2 separate regions of the Homo sapiens genome follow, and region 1 is linked to region 2. The links come from fine-mapping of genetic effects on plasma protein levels. Region 2 holds a variant in brackets. A gene starts in the other region. All regions are shown on their forward strands.

Region 1 (2,893 bases), not on the chromosome of region 2:
GTATGCTAATGCCACTGCCCTGAATGCTAATGGAATGTATGCTTATGTATTCTTGAGCTTTAGAAAAAAATCCTCAGTCTTAATTTCTAATGCATAAATTGCAATAGCAATATCAATAGGTAAAACCTACACAGGCAAAAGTTCTTTGAGGTCCTTGGAAATTATTAAGAGTATACAAGGGTCCTGAGACCAAAAATTTGAGAACTGGTAAGATTTAATGCATCAACTACCATTACACAGTGTCCTTGTTTCTCATCAATGCATTTTATATAGCAATTATTTTATCTAATCCCATGAAACTCACTTTATTGGATGCTTTTGCCATATCCTTATTTTCTAGCATCGTAGCTATTAGGTCATCTAATTATTAATCTGTTTGTGTCTTTGGGTTTAAATGTGTCTTTTGAGGCCACACAATGTTGGACTTCATTTTTTAATGGAGCCAACAATCAGCAATTGTTAATGCATTTGCTTTGTGTTCTATTACTCTGCAGTTTATCTTACTCATTGTTATTTTTGCTTTCTTTAAATTTATGTTTTCTTAATGGACTTTAAAATTCTTTATTTATTTTTTATGTCAGACAATAAACATCCCTAGTCTGCCCATCTTTCTATCATTTCAACATCATCATATTTCCAAATAACTTTTCATTGTTTCCTATAATTTTACTATTAATAGTATAGGATTAAGAAAATAAACCTTATCTGGGTTCTGGCTGGCACTGCCTTCCCTCTAGGGATGAAAATGGAGTGTAGTCTGTAATATATCCTGGTATCATAAATATATTTATAAAATTATACAAATGTAGCTTGCAGTTCTAAAGGCATGTAATCTAATTTTTACTTGAATTTTATCTTTTTTCTCTTTTTGTCCTTCATAGACCTCGAGCTCTGTCTAGCCCTCAACTGTTCTCAAATCTCCATTGTTTTCTACAAGTGACCCTCACAGCTGTGGGCCTTTGTTGACAAATTGTTTCATCTCCTCTGGGTCTTAAATTATTTTCTCTTACTCTAAAGTGAAAATTTGATGAATGTTTCCAGATACTGCACTTGGAATCATAACTTAATTTCCCTTAACCTTGTGTAAATTCTGTCCCCCCACTACTCCCAACTCCTATCCCTCCTCCAAAGCACTGATACTTATTATCACATTTAAATTTTTTCCCCGCTCTACTGATAACTTACAGAATGCAGGACTGCATTGTGATGGGGTAATTTCCATGAGTTGATTGGTTGGTTTTGAGTTGAAAAACTTAACAATGATACATCTTAAATTCTTTCTTTGAGGATTATTCCTTAATGAATTCGTGCTACGGACATACTGAGGTGGTTATTTTTATATTTCCCTGATAATAAATTCTAAATTGCTAAGGGTTTCTTACCACCCTCGTCCTTTTACTGTTACTAGATCTATTTTTAGCTGGTGTGGGCGTCCCCAGCTAGTTTCACTTGCCTAATGCTAGTTCTTTTTTCTTCTACATCAGGTCGCCTCTTCCTAGCATCTTCTCCATGTTTCTTGTTGCTCTACAGCATTTACAAGACCCAGTTTAATAGTTTAGTGCCTTTTTTGTCACTCATTATTTCTTCTTTGTTCTCTGTTAAAATAATAAGTGTATGATCCATTGCACTTGCCTTAGAGTCTTGAACCAGTCTTGGATTTCCCGCCATCTGGGTTCTGGCTGGCTTGCAATTTCTCCTTTGATGTTGTAATACTTTTTCATTGAACTTGAGTGTGGGGCTTATAGAGCTTCTTTGCTTTCATTATTTTTTCCCAAAATGTGCACATTTTTTTTCTTAAGCTTATTTTGCTGTTTTGTGCTGTTATTTTTAATTGCTTCCCACTGGGTGGGGGGGTAGGGGGACTGAGAGTGAGATTTGGCTTGAGTTTGGCTCTCTTTGCTATTACTCACATTTCCCCCCAGAAGCCCTACATGCACTCCTCTCTCTCTGTCTTTGACAAATTACTTTTGAAAGATCATTGATCCCTGGCGTAAATGGTGTTAAGAGTAAGATGGACTCGGGTAGGGATGCTCAGGAATCCAGTCCTGTACAGTCATGAGCTTGGCCATCTGGAAGTCTCCTCTTGCTCAATGAAATGGAGTAAACATTGTCCATTATGAAATCCACCACACAGGCTGCCAGGGACGAATGGGATCCCACCCAAAGCCAATCGCTGCTCTGACAGGGAAATTGGCTAGCACTGCCTGAGACTACTCCAGCCTCCCCCGTCCCTGATGTCACAATTCAGAGGCTGCTGCCTGCTTAGGAGGTTGTAGAAAGCTCTGTAGGTTCTCTCTGTGTGTCCTACAGGAGTCTTCAGGCCAGCTCCCTGTCGGATGGCTTTTATGAAAAAATATCTCCTCCCCATTCTGGGGCTCTTCATGGCCTACTACTACTATTCTGCAAACGAGGAATTCAGACCAGGTAAGTACCCATGCGTCTCATTTTGGAGGAATAGGTTTAAAAAACACAGGGGTGCTTGAGTGTTCCTGAGGACCAAGATGTGTTCTTGATCCTCAAAGTTGGTGAAAATGAGGGAACCCTGAGTTAAGATGGTATTTTTGTGTCCTCCAGCTACAGGCTGTGGACAGGGGGGACTGTGTAGGAAGGGTAATCGTGTAGCCAAAATCTAGCCAAATAGGCCATGCTTTATTTGGCACCCTTAATGGAAAGCAGTTTCAAATCTTCTACAAAAATGAGAGTAATACCCAAATTCACAACTCAGCAGCTAATTGGGCTCTATGAAGAGACTGATAAGTGGGAGGCAAAAAAAAAAAAAAAAAAAACTGGAGATGATGACTACATAGAAGTGAGGGAAAATCCCTGGAATTTCTATGAACACATGTGTTTTGATTCCTTGTTAAATGTACTTTCAATTGAGCAAAATTGAAAG
Region 2 (2,911 bases):
CCAGGGCTGGACCATTGTGTCCCCACCTCAGCCTCAACCTCCTCACAGGAAATGGAGGCTGTGGACACCTTTTTCCTGGTGGTGCCAGGAAGGGCCCTGAGGAGAGGTGTCAGGGAGCAGAGGCTGCTCTGTCTGCCACTCGGGCAAGGTCACCAGGGAGTCCTGTGTGCGCCCTGACTGTTGGACAGGGTTCCCATTCCACGGCACCCCGCAGGCCTGTGGGTGCTGCCACCCCCGCCACTGGCCTCAGAGATGCACAGGAGCCCTGACATGCAGACAGCATGCTTGGGAGGGAAGGGCTGACTCAGCACCCACTCCTCTGCCTCCTCACCTCGCTCCCAGGACCCTGGCTCACTCTGACTGCAGCAGGGCCAGGACCCTCCTCGTGGCCCTGCCATCCTGCCATCTCCGTCTCCGTCTCACTCCCCACAAGTGGTTGCTATTGCTGGTTTGGTTCCGCGTCAAAGTTCCCAAGGCCATGTACCCTAAGGAGTCCTCACCCCGAGGCCAAAAGAGAGCCTCTTTTTCATGGCCCACCCAGGAGTGATGGAGCCAGGATGCAACCCCAACACCCCTAACCCCAAACACACACGCCTCCTGTGGCCCTGAAACAAACATCTCCCACCTTGCTACGTCTCAGAGCATCTGTGCTTGATTCGGAAGATCCTCTGGGCCTCCTGGGTGTGTGCCAGGAGGGGATCTGTGCAGGTGGGGTCTGTGCTTCCTGGGCTCACTCCACCTCTTGCCCAGCCCCACTGGGAACCAGGGTCTGAGCAGGGCTTGAGCTACATAGATTGGACCCTCTCTTGACGAACGATCTCATTTGCCAAGAAGAGCCAGGGACCATGGCCCATCCACCACCTGTCATCAGCAGCATTTCTGGTCTCTGACACAGCATCACCTACCTGGAGCGGGGCCTGTGCTGGCCCCCTGTGGGACAACAGCTCCCCTCTTCCCCACTTCCCCCTATGAAGAGTGACCCCCGCCTAGGACCAGCATATGCCTTGATGGCAGTGGACACCTGGGTCCCACAGGTTGCTGGCTGTGGCCTGGAGGAAGGGTCCACCAGGTCTCAGTCCTGAGAGACAGTGGAAAATGGACCAAAACCCGACATGTTCTGAGGGTAGGATTGGGGTGGCTGGTTTTCCTCTTCTGTGTTCTCTAACTGCCCCGTAACGCAGATGATGGTTTTATAATGAGAAGAAGTAATAGCTGTGTTATCCTTGAGCTTAGGAGGCAAAACAAGTGTGTTTGAAATGAAAAGAACAAGTCTTTTCCAAAGTAGTCTCCGTGGAGATTGTGGGTGCTCTGACACTGCCACATGGGTCACAGCACCCGACCCAGCCCCCTAATGTCCCCGCCTCCCATTCCAGCTCACCAACCACCAGGAGCTGTGGGCCTTCATCGTCACCAACCTGGCGAGTGTGTATATACGGGAAGGAAATAGACACCAAGAGGTAGTAGGTGACATGCTTCATGTTCGGTATCCTTTCTCTCTGTTCTCTTCTTTTTGGGGAACCAGGGGGTTGTCCTGGGCACCAGCACATCTCAGCAGACCCCAGGGTGTTCACCTTTTGAGGGATGGGCGGCACCCGACACAGACACACAAGGCGACCCAGAGGTGAATCGGGCTATGGCCGGGGGAGGCCAGGTCTGGGACAAAAACATTCCC[A/G]TAGCCACAGAACACTTCTCTTTATCACAAACAAACCAAGCTGTATGAATCACACAGACAAGGTCTTATAGCCCAAGCTGTCTGCTCTAGGATGTCGGCCAGGCATTGAGGCTCAGTCCTAAGGGGCAGCAGCCAGAGCACCTTGTCCCCAGGTTGTGCTGATGCCCCTGCAGGATCAGGGGCACTCACTGGCTGCAGTGTTGGGTGGGGATGCCCAGGGTTGCCCTCACGTGGCGCTTCTGAACCAATGCTTGCATAAGAGTTAGGTTCCCTCTTCTGTCCCTTTTAGCCCTGGGATCCCCACTCAGCCCTGGGATCCCCCTCAGCCCCGGGATCCCCTCCTCAGCCCCGGGATCCCCTCCTCAGCCCTGGGATCCCCCTCAGCTCTGGGATTCCCTCCTCAGCCCTGGGATGCCCACTCAGCCCTGGGATCCCCCTCAGCCCTAGGATGTCCCTCAGTTCTAGTATCTCCTTCACCTCTGGGGGTCTACCTCCAAAGTGTATCAGGCCAGGTGCTTGGCTCACACCTGTAATCCCAGCACTTTGGGAAGCAAGGCAGGAGGATCACTTGAGGTCAGGAGTTCAAGACCAGCCTGGGCAACATAGGGAGACCCCCATTTCTACAAAAAAATTTTTTAAAAACTTGGTGGGGTGCAGGCCTGTGGTCCCAACTACTCGGGAGACTGAGGCAGGAGGATTGCTTGAGCTAGGGAGATTGAGGGCTGCAGTGAGCCATGATCCAGCCACTGCACTCCAGCCTGGGCGACAGAGCAAGAACCTGTCTCAAAGGAAAAAGAAAGCCCAGCCCCGGCTTAGTCATCCGATGCCATACGTGGGCTCGCAGTGTTGAGGAGGAGTTTGGCTCCCCTGTGCCTCTGCAGCTAGAGGGCAGCTAAATTATCAGTCAGATCACGCCCCCATCAGAGCCTCCCGGGGTCCCTGCACCTCCAGAGAAATCCCACCCACTCACCCCCACAGCCCACAGGGCTCACGGGCCCCAGCCTGCCAACCTACCCACTGCCAGGCCAGCCCCTCAGCACCACTCTGACCATACAAAGGCCTTCTGGACGCCCAGGCCCCTGTCACCTACTGCAGGACAGGGTGGCACAGGCAGGGCTGGCTGAGGGTGTGGAAATCTTGCCCCCGGCCCTTCTCACCAGAGGCTGCTCTTGCTGGTCAGTCACCAGGCTCAGCCTGGAGGCCACAGTCCCGACGGGGGTGTAGAGAAATTCCCATGCA

Which allele goes with the higher level. Alleles are on the strand shown, and positions count from the first base shown. The strength of an association depends on the size of the effect and on how common the allele is.
As copies of G replace A in region 2, the plasma level of the protein whose gene starts at base 2,240 in region 1 goes up (weak association).

Evidence for each region. A credible set is the group of variants that fine-mapping cannot tell apart. PIP is the chance, under the fine-mapping model, that this variant and not a neighbour inherited with it causes the effect. The UK Biobank Pharma Proteomics Project read protein levels with antibody pairs (Olink). The fine-mapping took linkage between variants from a reference panel, not from the people measured, so its PIPs are less certain.
Region 1: HSD11B1 starts here. The variant in region 2 is the best candidate, but not a certain one, in a credible set for the plasma level of the HSD11B1 protein (UK Biobank, PIP 0.52).

The regions. Positions count from the first base shown.
Region 1 is chr1:209,702,607-209,705,499 of GRCh38, forward strand. HSD11B1 (hydroxysteroid 11-beta dehydrogenase 1) reads left to right here and starts at 2,240. Exons shown (of 6, transcript NM_005525.4): 1 at 2,240-2,424. The coding sequence starts at 2,337. All of the region lies in intron 1 of HSD11B1-AS1 (HSD11B1 antisense RNA 1), which reads right to left.
Region 2 is chr19:19,345,907-19,348,817 of GRCh38, forward strand. It overlaps MAU2 (MAU2 sister chromatid cohesion factor), which reads left to right. Exons shown (of 19, transcript NM_015329.4): 13 at 1,374-1,460. Among named protein-coding and RNA genes, the nearest start is that of MAU2, 27 kb to the left of the region's middle. The variant A/G (reference allele first, on the strand shown) is at 1,673.